2 separate regions of the Homo sapiens genome follow, and region 2 is linked to region 1. A link means that fine-mapping ties the variant in region 1 to the expression of a gene that starts in the linked region. Tissue or cell type: tibial nerve. Region 1 holds a variant in brackets; the other region holds the start of a gene. All regions are shown on one strand. Distances are from middle to middle.

The links. PIP is the estimated chance that this variant, and not a neighbour inherited with it, causes the effect.
Region 2: NBN starts here. The variant in region 1 is fine-mapped to the expression of NBN in tibial nerve (GTEx, PIP above 0.99).

The regions. Positions count from the first base shown.
Region 1 is chr8:89,818,642-89,829,706 of GRCh38, reverse strand. It overlaps the pseudogene COX6B1P6. Among named protein-coding and RNA genes, the nearest start is that of RIPK2, 66 kb to the right of the region's middle. RefSeq lists an enhancer at 3,322-3,451. The variant T/C (reference allele first, on the strand shown) is at 4,806.
Region 2 is chr8:89,982,042-89,990,073 of GRCh38, reverse strand. NBN (nibrin) reads left to right here and starts at 5,407. Exons shown (of 16, transcript NM_002485.5): 1 at 5,407-5,549; 2 at 7,219-7,352. The coding sequence starts at 5,513. RefSeq lists enhancers at 5,047-5,843, 5,975-6,314 and a silencer at 5,655-5,854.

The sequences.
Region 1 (11,065 bases):
ATTGAGACTATCCTGGTTAACATGGTGAAACCCATCTCTACTAAAATTACAAAAAATTAGCTGGGCGTGGTGGTGAGTGCCTGCAATCCTAGTTACTTGGGAGGCTGAGGTACGAGAATCACTTGAACCTAGGAGGTGGAGGTTGAAGTGAGCCAAGATGGTGCCATTGCACTCCAGCCTGGGTGGCAAGAGTGAAACTCCATCTCAAAAAAAAAAAAAAAAAAGGAAAAAAAAACAACAACGAAAAACAGGGAGATGAGACTGAGATTGTCTAAGGCAGGGCGTTGGGGGAAGAGGGTTACTCTCATATGGTGATAATGAAAGGCTTCTGAAAGCATCTGAGCTAAGACCTAAATGATGAGGAATGAGCATTCCAGGTGGAGGGAGAAAATCCCCTGGGGAAGCCAAAGGTTTGTCCTACAAAACAGAAAAAATGCCAGAGGGAGTAAGTGCATGTGGCAGGAGGTGAGCTTGTCGAAATTTTTTGGGAACTGATCATATTGGACAGTGTGGGTCATGCTAAGAACCCACAATAGTTATTATGCTTGCAAGGGGAGCACACTTTGGAGGTTGTTGAATAGGAGAGTAAAATGATGTGATTTACTTTTTAAAAAGATGATCTGGCTGCTGTATGTCTTGTCCAAGATCAATCTCCACCCCATCTTGTGATAACATCCAGTGTCTAGCACATAGTGAGTGCCGAATGACTGAGCACAAATTATCCATTCCATTTCCAATATCTTCTGTATAATCTCTCCTTAACTGTCCTTTCCTTCCCACTTCTCTGACCACAGGAAAAATCCTTATTCATTAAGATTCAGCTAAAGCATTACTGTTCTGGGAAGCCTTTCTGATCTGCAGAGCTGAGTGAAATACCCGCCTCTATGCAGTTTTTGGACATTGTGCTCGCTTCTGTTATAATACTTAACATAATTATCGGTTAGGTTGTCTTCCCTCCCTATAGTGCTTAGCAAGGCCTATTTCTTATTCTTACTTAATCTTCAGTGACTATGTTAGATGATCTGCACATAGTCTGTTCACCTAAACTGCCCTTAACTGTTGATGTATTTGTTAATCACTTGGTATTACCCAACTTTGAAACTGACTCTAGAGAGGGTGACCTCTCTAGAAAACCTTTCTAATCTCAAGCCAGCTCTGTACTCCCTTCACAATATTGTAGCTTCACCCTAGATAATTCTTATTTTGCATTAAAATCTTGGCTTCCAGCTGGGCACAGTGGCTCATGACTGTAATCCCAGCACTTTGGGAGGCTGAGGTGGGTGGATCACGTGAGGCCAGGAGTTTGAGACCAGCCTGGCCAACATGGCAAGACCTTGTCTCTACTAAAAATACAAAAATTAGTGGGTGTGTTGGTGCACATCTATAATCCCAACTATTCGGGAGGGTGAGGCACAAGAATCACTTGAACCTGGAACAATGAGATTGCAGTGAGATGAGATTGTGCCACTGCACTTCAGCCTGAGCAACAGAATGAGAGCAACTCATTTCATCCAAAGTGGACATAAACCTGTTTTTATTATTAGGCATAAATTATTTGGGGACAGAATTACATCTAACTTATTTCTGAAATCCTGGTCTCTACTACCGTGTCTGGCACGTTGCAAACACAAAACAGGTGGTAATTATTATGAGTCTGAGATTCCCAAAGCCATGATCCACTGATGTTTTCCATTAAGACAAGTTACATCAGTAGAAACAATATTAAAATCCTCCCTTTATAGTATTTCCATTGAATAAATATTTTTAATCAAAATTTATTTTTATCTTTGCAATGATTCATAGAAATTAACCTTTCTATGTAAAAAACTAGATAGGGCAGAAATTTTAGTCATATATTAGAAAAAAGTAATCATCTTTTTGCAGTAGTTAAGAGCAATCTATCTTTTATTTAGTTGGTAAAAATGTTCAAATGTAAATGCATAGAGATAAATTTTCCTAGCTGTGGTAGATAACTCATCCCTCAGACTTGGAAGTGCAAGAAATGCCAAATAGACTGAAATGAAGATTAAGGTAAGTCTTTGGTTTTTATGCTTGTTTTCACACATGCTGGCAGCTATAATGGAAAATTAGGAATTCAGCCACATGAATGTCTGCTCTGTCTCCTTTTGTGTCTGGAAGAGAGGCAGCAGAATGGCCCTCTGGGTGTGGAAGAGGATCAGCTTCCCTATGCTGTTTTCCTTTTCCGTCATTTTGAAATCCATAAAGCATCAGCAGCAAGAACAACAACAGCAAAACACAAGTATAACCTGAAAGCATAGTGTATAGTCAGGGGAAGAAACGACTTTCAATCACAGTTATTTCATGAAGAAAAACTAATGTTTATATGACTATACTGTAATTAAGATTACAAACTCAAAAACTAATGGAGCTGGGTGCGGTGGCTCACGCTTGTAATCCCAGCACTTTGGGAGATCGAGGCTGGTGGATCACTTGAGGTCAGGAGTTGAAGACCAGCCTGGCCAACATAGTGAAACCCCATCTCTAAATTAGCCGGGCATGGTGGCATGCACCTGTAGCCCCGCCTACTCAGGAGGCTGAGGCAGGAGAATAGCTTGAGCCCAGGAGTTCAAGACCAGACTTGTCAACATGGTAAAAATCCCCTCTCTACCAAAAATACAAAAATTAGCTGGTCTCATAATCCAGTCAATAAATAAATAAATAAATAGATTTAAAAAAAACTAGCAAGAACTCAGTAAGGACAGATGTGACACTGCCTCCTGATTGTCCCATCAAAGGGGAAGGAAGGTGTGCGGAGGACCTGAGGGAGGAATGTGCTTCTTCAGACCCTATGTCCTGCTTGTTTCTGGTCAGTCTCTGGCCCAGGATCTTAGGTCTCTCATAGATTTAAGAAGCTTTAAGATGCACTTCCCTTAACTTAAATATGGGTAGAGATCTGTGAATATCCTCAGAAATATGAATATAGAACATGAGTGGGACAGGGGAGGAATTCTTGCCAATAACAGTTTCTGTAAGATACACATCAGATTTACTTACATTGAAAAGAAGAGCAGGGCCTGGTGTGAATCATTCCACTTGGATCACGCTTAAACTGCAGGGGAGGTGCCCTTCCCTTGAGCCCACATTAAAGAGCCTGGGAAATGGGTGTGAAGAATGAGAGGCTTTCGCTATTATCAGCTGGGTGCTGTGCAAACACAGCAACTGGTATTTCTATGTAAGTACACATGGAAAGAAAGGGAGAGAAATTTAGATGGCATATATAAGAGACATTTTTTTCTTTTTTCTTTTCTGTTTTTTTTTTGCTCATTACTCTTGAAAAATCAAAGACCACACAGAAACAAGCCAGTAGCACTGGAAATCCCCTTGTACTTGTCATTTTGTTTAGTCACTTATCAGGAGTCAGGGGAACAGTAGGCTGGAGGCAGACAGGACCAAGTACTTCCAGATTTAATGCAACCACTAGACAAGACAATCAAGAGGAAATGAAAAACTGGAGCCATTTCGTTTACTGGATAGCAGCTGACCTCACTCATCACTGGCAAGAAAAGGCATAGTGTCGCGGAAATGCCATAGTAGCTGGAGTCAGAAGACGTGAGATTGGCTGGCCATGGTAGCTCACACTTGGAATCCCAGCACTGTGGGTGGTTGAGGCCAGGAGTTCTAGGCTGTAGTCATCTATGATCACATCACTGCACCAAAAAAAAAAAAAAAAGGTCTGAGATTGAGCCTTGAGCTCTCCCACTCACTGGCATGTAGTCTTGGATAAATCCCTCTTACATCACTCTGAATGATCTGGTTTACCCATCTCAAAGATAAGGACAATTATACCATGAGCAGCAAAAATTTCATAGGGTTTGTTGTAGTAAATGAAATAAGATTAGCAAAGCTAATTTGTTATTATAATTTCAATAAAAAATAGACTCAAATGATTGTGGGAACTGCTCCATCTTTAATATTCACCATTTCAAACTAGAAAGATTTCCCCTAAATCTTCTTCCAAACATGTCCATACTCTAATCTTATTTCTTTTTGTAATTGGTTTGCTGAGCAGCGTTCTAATTGCCCATCATTTTTCTAGCCAGCTTTAGGGCAGCTGAGATGGCCAAACAGGGAACTGCAGTGTGTGACGGGGGGGATTTTAAGAACATTAGAGCAGAGCGTGTGTATGTGTATTTATTTTTCACAGCTTGTTTTGCTATGCTCATCAAGTGGCTCCTGTCTCTTTGTATTCGTCTACTGAGTATTTTTCCACATAAGTGATTTGCTGTGTAATTATCCTGGCCAACAACTACGTACAGTATGTCATGTTACTTAGCTGCTGCAAGCAAATCCTTTCCCACATCCTGGAAAAGGCTGACTCTTTAAAAAAAATCATTATGTGTATTTAAGATATGGAACATGATGTTATAAGATGCACATATACAGTAAAAAGGTCACTATAGTGGAACAAAGGAACATATCCATCGTCTCACACAGTTACTCCTTTATCCCCCTATGGCAAGAGTAGCTATAATCTACTCATTTAGAAAAAATCCTGAATATAACATTCTATTATTGACTATAGTCCTCACATTGTATATTAGATCTTTCCATTTGTTCATCGTATATATTTGCTAATTTGTATCCTTTGGCCTAATATCTTCCCAATTCCTATCCCACACTCCAACCCTGGTAATCACTGTTTTATTCTCTCTATGTCTGACTGCTTTAAAAAAATTCACAGAAAGCATTTGTGGAGGCTGAGCAAGATGGCTGAATAGAAGCCTCCACCAATAGTCTTCCCTGCAGGAACACCAACTTTAACAACTATCTACACAAAAAGCACC[T/C]TCATGACAAACAAGCAGGTGCATGATCATAGTACCTGGTTTTAACCTCACATTACCCAAAGAGGCACTGAATAGGATAAGAAAGACAGCCTTAAATTGCTGACAATGCTCTTCCAGCATTCCTCAGCAGCGGCCACATGGTACAAAGACAGCCTGTGCCCTTGGGGGTGGGAGAATGCAGCATCTGTGGACTTTGCATTGGAACTCGGTGCTACCTTGTCACAGTGAAAAGCAACACGGGACAGAACTCAGCCACCACCCATGGAGGGAGCATTTAGACCAGCCCTATCCAGAGCGGGTAGCCTATCCCAGTAGTCAGAACCTGTGTTCTGGCAAGCCTCGGCACTGTGGACTAAAGCGCTCTGGGTCCTAAATAAAGTTGAAAGGTAGTCTAAGCCGCAAGAACTGTGATTCCTGGGCAAGTCCTGGTGCTGTGCTGGGCGCAGAGTCAGTAGATTTGGCAGGCATATGACCTAGTGAGACACCAGCCCAGGTGGCCAAGGGAGTGTGTGTGTCACCCCTCCCCGCATACCAAGGCAGCACAGCTCACAGCCCCAGAAGAGAGTTCTTTCTTTTGCTTGGGGAGAGGAGAGGGAAGAGTAAAGAGGAGTTTGTCTTACAACTTGGATATCATAGGGGTAGTTTGCAAATATTTTCTCCTATTCTGTGGGTTGTCTCTTCACTTTGTTGACTGTATCCTTTGCTCAGCAAAAGCTTTTTAACTTTATATCACGTTAGTTCATTTTCTAACTCTTTGCCTTTCAAAAATTTCTCCAGGTATTTTCAATGAGCTTTTTCAAACACAACAACATTCTAAAAATGTTTCACACATCAGTAGTTTGAAGAAAATTTTCCCAAGACATGTAGGGCCATCTTTTCAATTTTAATCTTTTCCTGGCTATTAATGTACACAACTCATTTTCCCTGACCTTTTGCAAGTGTTACTTGTGTGAATAGTACCATTGACAAAAATGCTATTTCTTTCAAGAGTTTGATAATAAGATTTCTCTCTGCCCAGTAAATTAAAAAATCATGATAGTCTTTGCTGAGGGTCACACTGAGCTGAGAGGTATCTCAGGGGCATCTTTAGGAGTTAGCAACATAGCAGAATATATCGAGACCCATGTCAAGAACTACAGAACTGCCGCTTTTGACAGCTGCTTCCCCAACCAGAGCCAGTTCAGGAACTGCTGGCAGAACTACCCAGATTTCTACCACTGTGGAAAGGTAATGATGTCTGAAGAGAGTGATGTCTCTGGGTGCAAATGGTAGTGGGAATGTGTACAAATCCCCCAGCATCATATTCTGGGTCTTAACCTGGGGTGACCACGGGGCAGAAGCCACAATTCCTGGAAAGATGAGAATGAGTTCTGCCCCACTTTTCCTCGGTCCTAAGTCCTTCTCCCAGGGTGATAAAGGGGGACTTGGGTACATGGAGCTCATCGTGGGACCCTGAATCATGACTTAAGTGATAATAAAAGCTTACTGGAAGAGTGGGGAAAAAGTCATGACATGAAGGATTAGAGGAGAGATTTGCAGTTGTCTTAAAGAAATAGTCTACTCCCCTCCTGAGGTAGAGTTCAGCTTCGTCCACTTTTCTGCTGTGTGCACTATGGCAAATGCAGCAAGACATAGAGATATGGATGTGCCTCAACGCATCCAGTAAGTTGAGAGAAAACCTCAAGTTGCAAATGGATATGAACAGTGTAGTACCATTTATGAAATGACATAATTATGTATGGATATATTCATATGTAGTCAGATTTGTAAAAAGTACTTGGAAATGATTCATATTTACCTTAGGATAGTTGTTTAAACTGAGGAGAAAAAAGGTGGTGATGATGAGAGAAAGATAAGGAGATGAAGCTTTCCTTCTATTTATAGTGTTTTATTTCTTAAAATCTGAAAGAGGCTGGCATAGTGGTGCACATCTGTAATCCCAGCACTTAGGGAGGCTGAGGCAGGGGGATTGCTTGAGGCCAGAAGTTCAAGGCTGCAGTGTGCTATGATCATGCCATGGCACTCCAGCCTTGGTGCCAAAGCGAGACCCTGTCTCAAAAAAAAAAAAAAAAACTCTGGAAACAAATATGGTAAAATATTAACACCTTATGTGTGTGGTACATGAAATCCTTGTTATATTCTGTACATATGAAATAGTTTATAATTTGAAAAACAGCTAGTTTTCTAGGAAGTATTAACATACCTAAAGAATGAGCTAATTAAAATTGGTGGCAGAAGGTCAGAGAAGTTATCCTTGTAGTATCCATTCATGCATTTCTTGGGCAAATACTCAAGTCTAAAGCCCCATTTACAGTATTTCTGTTGGGAAGATGACTAGACGCCCCCTATCTATGTTCCTTTATTTACAATTTAGGCTTGAGCACAAATCTGACTACTAGAAGAGAAGGTATTCCCCAAGAAATTATGGAGGCCCAGCAGCAGTTCTATTACTTGCCCTTAAAAATGGCATTGCATTCTGATTTTATTAAAAAAGTTTATTATCAGCCTAGTGCCAAAATCTGTGTTTGAGTTTACAGAACTGAGGGTCAGAATGCCACTTTCTTTCTAATTTCCATATTGGATTTGGTGAAGATTTTCCAGCTCCTAAGGCCTGATTGTTCCTAGTAGACAGGTACATTATATTTGGTTGTTTTTGTTTTTGTTTTCTTCTTTTATCCCTAATCTGATCTCCTTGAGGGCAAGAATACTTCTTCTCTATTTTTTTCTCCTCCAAGAGTTCAATACACGTTTGGTGAAAAAATAGTGTTTCAATCTAGAAGAAATGGATAAGTTCCTGGACACATACCCCCTTCCCAAGACTAAACCAGGAAGAAGTTGAATCCCTGAATAGACCAATAACAGGCTCCGAAATTGAGGCAATCATTAATAGACTACCAACCAAAAAAAGTCCAGGACCAGACAGATTCACAGTCGAATTCTACCAGAGGTACAAGGAGGAGCTGGTACCATTCCTTCTGAAACGATTCCAATCAATAGAAAAAGAGGGAATCCTCCCTAACTCATTTTATGAGGCCAACATCATCCTGATACCAAAGCCTGACAGAGACACAACAAAAAAAGAGAATTTTAGACCAATATCCCTGATGAACATCAATGCAAAAATCCTCAATAAAATACTGGCAAACCAAATCCAGCAGCACATCAAAAAGCTTATCCACCATGTTCAAGTGGGCTTCAACCCTGGAATGCAAGGCTGGTTCGACATATGAAAATCAATAAACGTAATCCAGCATATAAACAGAACCAAAGACAAAAACCACATGATTATCTCAATAGATGCAGAAAAGGCCTTTGACAAAATTCAACAACGCTTCATGCTAAAAACTCTCAATAAATTAGGTATTGATGGGACGTATCTCCAAATAATAAGAGATCTTTATGACAAACCCACAGCCAATATCATACTGAATGGGCAAAAACTGGAAGCATTCCCTTTGAAAACTGGCACAAGACAGGGATGCCCTCTCTCACCACTCCTATTCAACATAATGTTGGAAGCTCTGGCTAGGGCAGTCAGGCAGGAGAAAGAAATAAAGGGTATCCAATTAGGAAAAGAGGAAGTCAAATTGTCCCTGTTTGCAGATGACATGATTGTATACTTAGAAAACCCCATTGTCTCAGCCCAAAATCTCCTTAAGCTGATAAGCAACTTCAGCAAAGTCTCAGGATACAAAATCAATGTGCAAAAATCACAAGCATTCTTGTACACCAATAACAGACAAACAGCCAAATCATGAGTGAACGCCCATTCATAATTGCTTCAAAGAGAATAAAATACCTAGGAATCCAACTTACAAGGGATGTGAAGGACCTCTTCAAAGAGAACTACAAACCACTGCTCAACAAAATAAAAGAGGACACAAACAAATGGAAGAAAATTCCATGCTCATGGATAGGAAGAATGAATATCATGAAAATAGTCATACTGCCCAAGGTAATTTATAGATTCAATGCCATCACCATCAAGCTACCAATGACTTTCTTCACAGAATTGGAAAAAACTACTTTAAAGTTCATATGGAACCAAAAAAGAGCCCACATTGCCAAGGCAATACTAAGCCGAAAGAACAAAGCTGGAGGCATCATGCTACCTGACTTCAAACTATACTACAAGGCTACAGTAACCAAAACAGCACGGTACTGGTACCAAAACAGAGATATAGACCAATGGAACAGAACAGAGCCCTCAGAAATAATGCCACACATCTACAACCATCTTATCTTTGACAAACCTGACAAAGAGAAGAAATGGGGAAAGGATTCCCTATTTAATAAATGGTGCTGGGAAAACTGGCTAGCCATATGTAGAAAGCTGAAACTGGATCCCTTCCTTACACCTCATACAAAAATTAATTCAAGATGGATTAAAGACTTAAATGTTAGACCTAAAACCATAAAAACCCTTGAAGACAACCTAGGCAATACCATTCAGGACATAGGCATGGGCAAGGACTTCATGTCTAAAACACCAAAAGCAATGGCAACAAAAGCCAAAATAGACAAATGGGATCTAATTAAACTAAACAGCTTCTGCACAGCAAAAGAAACTACCATCAGAGTGAACAGGCAACCTACAGAATGGGAGAAGATTTATGCAATCTACTCATCTGACAAAGGGCTAATATCCAGAATCTACAAAGAACTCAAACGAATTTACAAGAAAAAAACAACCCCATCAACAAGTGTATGAAGGATATGAACAGACATTTCTCAAAAGAAGACATTTATGCAGCCAACAAATGAAAAGATGCTCATCATCACTGGCCATCAGAGAAATGCAAATCAAAACCACAGTGAGATACCATCTCTCACCAGTTAGAATGGCGATCATTAAAATGTCAGGAAACAACAGGTGCTGGAGAGCATGTGGAGTAATAGGAACACTTTTACACTGTTGGTGGGACTGTAAACTAGTTCAACCATTGTGGAAGACAATGTGGCGATTCCTCAAGGATCTAGAACTAGAAATACCATTTGACCCAGCCATCCCATTACTGGGTATATACCCAAAGGACTATAAATCATGCTGCTATAAAGACACAGGCACATGTATGTTTATTGTGGTGCTATTCACACTAGCAAAGACTTGTAACCAACCCAAATGTCCATCAATGATAGACTGGATTAAGAAAATGTGGCACATATACACCATGGAATACTATGCAATCATAAAAAAGGATGAGTTCATGTCATTTGTAGGGACATGGATGAAGCTGGAAATCATCATTCTGAGCAAACTATCACAAGGACAGAAAACCAAACACCGCATGTTCTCACTCATAGGTGGGAATTGAACAATGAGAACACTTGGACACAGGAAGAGGAATATCACACACCAGGGCCTGATGTGGGGTGGGGGGAGGAGGGAGGGATAGCGTTAGGAGAGATACCTAATGTAAATCACGAGTTGATGGGTGCAGCACACCAACATGGCACATGTATACATATGTAACAAACTTGCACATTGTGCACATGTACCCTAGAACTTAAAGTATAATGATAAAAATATAAAATAACATAATAAAAAATAAATAAATAAAGTGTTTCAAAACTTTTTATTTAATTTGAGTTATCTGAGTTTCGGATGGTGCTAATTTGCATGGCCTAAACCCTTTAGTAACAAATAAAACAACCGCTATTATCAGAATGGTTTTAAGAAAGTATCTACCTTACCAAAGCAGCAAGCTAATAAGACATGGTATATTCATCACGCAATGATATAAATTATTTTTTAGTTTTAATTTTTAGAGACAGGGTCTCACTCTGTTGCCTAGGCGGGAATGCAGTGACACAGTCATAACTCCCTGTAACTTCCTTCCAACTGCTAAGCTCAAGTGATCCTCCCACCTTGGCCTCCTTACATGCTGGGATCCTAGGCTTGAGCCACCACACCTGGCCACAGTGATATAAATTTGACTTTGGACTTCCAAGTATCAATTCTTTTTTTTTTTTTTTTTTTTTTTGAGATGGCGTCTTGGTCTGTCAGGCTAGAGTGCAATGGCATGATCTCAGCTCACTGCAACCTCCGCCTCCCGGTTTCAAGCGATTCTCCTGCCTCAGCCTCCCTAGTAGCTGGGATTACAGGGGCATGCCACCATACCTGGCTAATTTTTGTATTTTTAGTAGAGATGGGGTTTCATCATGTTGGCCAGGCTGGTCTCGAACTCCTGACCTCAAGTATCGGCCCACCTTGGCTTCCCAAAGTGTTGGGATTATAGGCACGAGCCACCACACCCAGC
Region 2 (8,032 bases), 160 kb before region 1:
AGGGCTCTTAGACAAGTGAGCTATGGATCTAAGAGATCTCAGGGTAAAAGTACTTCTGAGAGCTACAGCTCAGTAGTGAGAGCTGACTGACAGCAAAGTTACTGAGCTATCCATCCTGGTGTCCAGCCCGGATATGAAGGAGGATGGAAGGAGACTGACACCTGGGTAAAGTGGAAGGATCATGTGGCTGGAGTCGTGGGTGAGGCTAAAAAGCGAGGCAATGGAAGTGAACATACAAGGAAGTGGGAAGGCCAGGCAGCTCCAGTTATAAAGCAGGAAAATAAGGGTGAAGAAGGTTCTGATGATGTGAAGATCGAAAGTGTGGCCAACTGAGAGGGTGGTATGTGTGGAGTAGAGATGAAAGTCACAGAAGCTGAGACAGTTGAAGAATAGTGAGCCTAGCATGTAGAATGAGTTTTCAGTGTAGTTGAGAGTGATGGCAAGAGTTGGGATGGAGCAAAATCTCTCACATATGTGACAGTGTCCTTAGTGAATATGGGCAAGTGACATGGTCATACCTGCAGTAGGTAATAGAAAAAGAAGGTCTAGAGGGTGGATAGTTACACGAAATGATCCTGACCAAGGAGAGGTTTTGCAAAGTAGGGAAGAGTAATACACTAAAATGGAAAGTAAAGTTTAGGGGGAAGTAGTAACCCTAGTGGCCCACAGCTGTACTGGATATGAGTGGGAGAGGCATTGGAGCAAACTAGCCTAGAACCTGTCATGGGAAGCTGTGGTCTAGGGTGACAGCAAAGTTTCATTTAAGGCAAGATGTAAAGGGAAGACTCTGTCAAGACCCTAAAGATTTAGAAGAGTTTGTTTATACCATGACAGAGGTGAGAGGAGATGCCAGCAAGGTACAAGAAGCAGGGAGCATGGAGCAATAAGCAGACCAATTTGCTACCAAAAGCAAACCCTATTTGCATCATGCTCCTCTTCAATTTTTTTCTGGGCTCTGATTATTAGACCTGTGTTGTTACCAAGCAACAGATAGAAATTGTGGGATCTGTTTTCCTTCATCACTCTGCCACTACCATCTTTCATCCTGGCAATCAGACAATAAGTTGGGCTAAGTTATAGTATTTCCCAGCAGGGAAGAACTGGGCCTGATAAAGGAAGGAGGTGGCTTTACCCAGAAGGAGCTGTAGAACCCTGCCAACATGAAGCAGCTGGAACAAGACAGTACTGATGGGACTGCCTTCTGAGGATGCTGAACAAAAGGAGAGTGGAAAGTAAATTTGTATGAGAGAGTTTATTGATTTGAGAGCAGTCTCCAGGGAGAGAGGATCGAACATTCCAGCAAGGACTCTGGGAAACATTGCTATCATGCTTCTATGACGGCTTTTAGAAGTTTGTGGAAAAGTGGTGGCCCACGCTAAGAGAAGTAAAAATGCCACAGCTGCCATGGCAGATGGTAGAAGTAGGGATCAAACTGCTCAGGGAAATGGGTATGCTACAGTGGCCATATTATGTAGGGCTGGAAACCCCCCAGATGTCAAAATTCCAGTTCAGATGTGCCATTTATTAAAGAGACATGGAATTCTCTGGTGAGAAGGGTACCAGCATCACTGAGAAGCTCAGTGGTAGGTCTCCTCTGTAGGTCATGGTTGATGATAAAAGATGCTGTTATGGAATTGAGTTCCCAGATAGGACTGGGGATAATAGAATCCTGAAATGATAGAGGCCAGCTGGTGGTACTTAACCATCCGAATGGTATAATTATCTTGAGTGGCAAGATTGAAGTGGCAGCAGAGCTCTCGACCCAGAGTGAGCTTAAAAGATGCTTAATAGAATAAGGCACCCCTGTGGGGAAAGACAGTTAACCAAGAGTAAACTCAATCTGTTCAGTGAACAGGTATCAAGAATGGAAGACACAAGGCTCAGAGCAGCAGCCTCAACAAAAAGTCACAGTCTCTTTCCGAATTTCCTGATTTGAGCCACTTTGCCAATCCAGAACCCATTGACTGGTGGAGAGGCAGGACTGCCAGTAAGAAGGACCCTGCAATCCCATAGCAAGAATATATGGTAATGACCTCCCCGCACCCCACCCTACTCTCAGTCTTTCCCTTAAGGGACCTATAGCCATTCGCTTGGAAAATCATACACTGAGGAAAAGAGAATGCCCAAATACTTGGAGGGCTGTGGGACATGATCATTATTGATACCCATGAACCCAAAATATTATGACTCCTGGTTAAAGCAGAGGTATTCAGAAGCCAGAGAGTTAAGGGAGTCCTTGTCCAGGTCTGGCATACAGTGGGTCCACCGAACACATAGACTTACGTGGTGGTCATTTTCCTAGTTCCCAAATATATAATTGAAATGAACATCCTTGGTAGTTCTTACAATACCCACCTCAGCTCCTTGGCCTGTAGGGTAAGAACTATCAACGCGGGCAAGGCCAACAGGGAGCAGCCTCAAATTGTACAGCCATGACAGTGAGCAAGAACAATATAGGGGAATGATAGATATTAGTGCTTTCTTTTTGGCTCCCTTTTTATCTCCATTTAATTCATCATACTTGACCTACAAAAGCCTAACAGTTCCTGGAGAATAAACAGCCGACTACTGCAATCAACAAAGTAATAACCCCAATTAGAGCTGCTGTACCAGATGTGAAATCTTTACAAGAGCAGAACAACATGACCTCAGGCAACAGGTTTGGGGTGATTGATATGATGACATGTGCTTCCCCAACCTTAACAGAAAGTAGAATCCAAAAGTGCTCATATTTAATTAGAAAAAATAATAGAAAATACTTGCAATGTTGACCCAGAGCTAAGCTGTATCTCCTTAACCTCTATCATAATGTATTCCCAAGAGACCTGAAGTGTCTGGACATGCTGCAGAACATCCACTGTTCTACTACAGTGATGGTATTATGCTCACCAGATTGGATGAGTAAGGATTTGGCAAACAGGTTGGAGGCCTTGGTGAGATATGTATACTTCAGAATGTGGAAGAAAATTCCTGCAAAATGTTGATGCTTCACTAAATCAGTGAAATTTAGGGATTCTATGATGCAGGGCATACTTTTGTGTGTCCTACTTAAGAAAGATCTGCCTACTTTGAAATCATGTTTTCTTCCACTAATATTTATTATTTTACTTTCCTATGTAAATAATGATTCATCTGGAATTTAGATGAATTCTAATTCATCTAAATGAATTAGGGGGATCAGTCTTCATTTCCTGTGTTATGTTAACACATTTCTTGTGTCACGTTAATAAACGGGATCATTTATTTGTGGGGTGGGGTGGGGTCACATGAGACTTTCCTTTGTTGCCCTGTAATCACCTTCGAAAAATCAAATTACCTTATGTGTCCACTTTTTTTAGGTCCCTCTATTCTGACTCATTTGCCTGTTTTCTATCCTTGTACCAAGCAAACACTGACTTAATAACTGTAACTTTATAATAGATCTTAGTATTTCATAATTTAAATATTCCAGCTTTGTTCTTCAAAATTGCCTTGGCTATTCTAGGCATTTGCATTTCCATATAAATGTTAGAATCTGCTCATCCATTTCTACTCAAAAAAAGCATTTGAGATTGCTGAAGTTACATTGAATCTATAGAACAATTTTGGGGGAAATGACATCTTAACAATCTGTGAACATGATCCATTATCCTTGCATTTATTTAGGACTTTTTAAACTTTCTGTCAATAATGTTATGTAGTCAATCATGTTTTGTATTACATAGTTTGATCGATGTATTACCAAGCACTCGATTATTTTGGTGCCATTATAATTAAACATGTAATTTTCTATTTATTTTCTGGAATAAAGGTATACAATTAAATTTTGTATCTAGATATTGTATCTATAACCTTATTAAATTCATTTATTAATTAAAATAGTTTGCCAACAGTTTTTTTGATTTTCAATATAGGCAATCGTGTAATTTGTGAATAATGACTGTTATTTCTTCCTTTCCAATCTGAATGTCTTTTGTTACTCTTTCTCCTTTATTGCATTGGCTAGAGCATCTAAAGCCATGCTGAAAATAAGTGGTAAGAGCGTGTACATCCTTGTTTCATTACTGATGTCATGGGGAAATGTTCAATAATTTACCTTAAGTATAACGTAAACTGTAGTTTTTTTTGTAAATGTCCTTTATCAGATCATGGATGTTTTCTCTATTCCTACTTTGCAGAGAGGTTTTTATCCTAAATGGGTGCTTAATTTTATCAATTTCTTTGCTACTATCAAGATAATCATGATTTTTCTCCTATTTAAAATTATTATGATGAATTACATTTATTTTTTCCCCCAATGTTAACCCACCCTTTTGTTTCTGGATAAATCTCACTTAGTTATGATTATTCTTTTTATACTACTACTTGATTCAATTTGCTAATATTGTGCTTAGGAGTTTGCATCTATGATGATAAGAGATTGGTAAACCAGCCTTTTTTTTTTTTTTTTTTTGAGACAGGGTCTTGCTCTATCGCCCAGGCTAGAGTGCAGTGGCATGATCATGGCTCACTGCAGCATCGAACTCCTGGGCTCAAGTGATCCTTCTGCCTCAGCCTCCTGAGTAGCTGGGAATACAGGAGCATGGCACCAAGCCCTGCTAACTTTAAAATTTTTTATAAAGACAGGGTCTTGCCATGTTGCCCATGCTGATCTTGAACTCCTGGCCTCAAGTGATCCTCCCATCTTGGCCTCCCAGACTGCTGGGATTAAAGGAGCGAGCCATGGTGCTGGGCCTAAACAAGCCTTTTTAAAGTGACTTTTCCCCCCTATTACAGAATGCTTTTGAAAGCCAAAATGTATGTGATCAGGAGTGTGCTCTCAGATGTTTATTTAGTAGTGCGCAGGATGTAGACTACATTATGTGGGACGTGGGTGGTGATGGGTTGGGAAGCTACTGGAATTAGGAGGAGAGCTTGAACCAGCTTGAGACAGGTGGAAGTGGAAAGGAAGGGTATTAAATACAGGAGACTGCCCAGTATTTAGCATGTGATTAGCTGAAAGTGTGGCATTATGAAATAAAGACGTTAAGACAAGTTGATTTGAACTTAGAAAAGAGTAAAAATAATGAGTTTACTTCGAGGTGAAATCCTTATCTTCATCATTATTATCACCATTACTAGATTCCAAAGGAATACCTGCAATTTAAGAAACTGCAAACGCACGAAACTACATAACTGGTAAGTATTTTAATGCATTTAATTAAAAATTTTCCTTATGTTGCTTTGGAGTTAGTTTTTAAAATTCTTTTCGTTCATAATCAGGAAAGGTAGTAACCTTACATTCAGCGACACCTTAGAAACATACCCTTTTAACGCAGCACATTTCAATACAGATTGTGCTGTTCCTTTTCCAACCACCAGGTGGCGGGCAAGCGCCCAAGTCGCACTCCCGCCTCATCCAAGGCAGCCTGCGTGGCTCCCGGGAGCGCGCACGTCCCGGAGCCCATGCCGACCGCAGGCGCCGTATCCGCGCTCGTCTAGCAGCCCCGGTTACGCGGTTGCACGTCGGCCCCAGCCCTGAGGAGCCGGACCGATGTGGAAACTGCTGCCCGCCGCGGGCCCGGCAGGAGGTAAGGGCAGAAGGGAAGCCTCGGGGCCTATTTTCCCGGTAGCGACTGCCTCGGGGGAGGGCCTGCGGGTGATTCCTGCGTCGCGTCCGTTCCTGCCCGGGGACGCTGCGGAAGCGGTCGCAGAAGCGGCGAGTACGCTGTATGGCAAGCGCATATTCTTCCCGGGCAGCACGGCGGCTGTGAGCTGGAATTCAGCGCGGGCGGTGGGGTGATTGCGGCGCCCCCTGGTGGCAGTCCTCCGCGCCCCTCCCCTGACTCCCCCTCCCTCCCAGCCTCACCCCCGCGCCGTTGCAGCGCTAGGGCTGGATGGCCTGCGGGTAAGCGGCAGCAGGCGCCTAGTGGGAACCCCCGGCAGGAAGTTAGCATGGGCGGACCACACGGGGGCCACACATGACTTGTGAAGAACTACTGGACAGTTTGGGGAAATGACTACCACGAAAAGGCTTACTTTCAGTTTTGTTTCAGACTCCTTTTCCACAATGTCATCAGAACAATGGGAAAAGTCGATTTTTTCCCATTCATTTCCAGCGGTGTGAAATGTGATCACATGTTAATTGGTTGCCCGTGGTGGGTGTGAAGGGTCTTGTCCTCGGGAAGTTTACATGATGATTGGCAAAGATCTATGTAGAGACTAAATGGACTGGCAGGGTAAGAGAGTATGGAGAGCGCCAAACTAAATAAATTTTATACTGTGAAGACTCACAGGTCAAGGCGTCCCTGGAGACCTGGCTCTTCTGGACTCCCTACTCTTTATCTGCCCTAATCTCCCTGCCACTCGGGTAATGAAATTATGCTCCCAGACTCAACTCCGCATGTCTCCAATATATATACTGTTACTCCAACAACTTATGATTTACAGCAATTTTAAAAGAAACTGATAACCCTTTCCCACTGATTGGAGATGTTATCTTTAAGATAAAAACAAATTTTCAAAAAATGTACACGTGCATCTTAGTCTGGACTTTGTTGCATTGGTCTGTGTTGTTTACTCATGGTCCAGTACCATACTTTTAGTTTTATGGCATATTTTGCCATCTGGTAGGGCAAGCTCCTATTATATTATTCACATTTTTCTTGATTTTTTTTTTTTTTTGAGACGGAGTCTCACTCTGTCACCGAGGCTGGAGTGCAGTGGCACTGTGTCGGCTCACTGCAACCTCCATCCCCTGGGTTCAAGCAGTTCTCTTGCTTCAGCCTCCCAAGTAGCTGGGATTACAGGCTTGAGCATCTTTTTTTATAGTTTCCTGATATTTTTGTTTATCAAGTTCCAAACATAATATTGTGATTGTTGCTAGGTAATACATTAAGTTTTTAAGTTAATTTGAGGGAACATTGACTCCTTTCAGCATTGCTTTCCCTTTAGAAAAATGATGTAGCCTTCTATCTGTTTAGATAACCTTTTTTTCTTTTTCTCTTTTTTATTGTATTTTAAATTTTGTTGTTGTTACTCCTGAAACACCATAGTTAGATAACCTTTGATAGCCTTCAGTGAGGCTTTACTGAAAACACAAGTTTGACATATGTAAAGTTGACTAACATTTGAATAACAAAGGTGTTTTATTTAATATTTGTCATACCTATATCATATACACTTACATGTATGTGTGTGTTCGTGTACATGTGTATGTGTCTATCAACTTATCTTTTTTTAAAAAAAAATTTATCTCAGGAGAACCATACAGACTTTTGACTGGCGTTGAGTACGTTGTTGGAAGGAAAAACTGTGCCATTCTGATTGAAAATGATCAGTCGATCAGCCGAAATCATGCTGTGTTAACTGCTAACTTTTCTGTAACCAACCTGGTATGTTACTAATTTTATTTCACTAGTTTCCAGTAAGGGGGTTGAAATCACAAAATATTCTCTTGGTTTGTATGTGAGAGAGAGTTCACAGGATTTGTCATTTTATAGAGCTGTGTAGACTTTTTTAATGTTAACAAAATTAAATACTTATATTGTGGCAGTGGTACCAGTGGTATTTGTTCATTTTGAGATTTGAAGTTTCTATTTCAGTAATTTACTCTTTGTTTTAGTTAGAAACTCAGAGGAAGTAGGACATAGTTATTTTTATTTGCTTACTAAACATTTATTGTTTACTATTAGTTTGGTGCAAAAGTAATTGCTGTTTTTGCCATTAGCAGTAATGTGTTTTTATGTGTCAGTAACTGTGCCAACCCTGCGAATAGAACAATGAACAGACCTTCATGACTCTGGCTCTTAAAGAGGTTATGTAGCTGTGTGGAAACGGGCATTTCTCATATAATACAAGTTTTTGCAATGGGAATTGATTTGTTTTATTAGGGAAATGCTTACTTATGCCCCACAGCTCCTTTAAATGGCTTTCAGTTTGTTTTGATCATAACCTTGGGTGATAAAAGTGCTAAAAAAAATACATAGGAATATCTGTACTCATGATAACGCTGGTGGTAATAAGAAAGATGAGCCATTATTTTAATCAAAGATTGCATATATGCGATATGAAT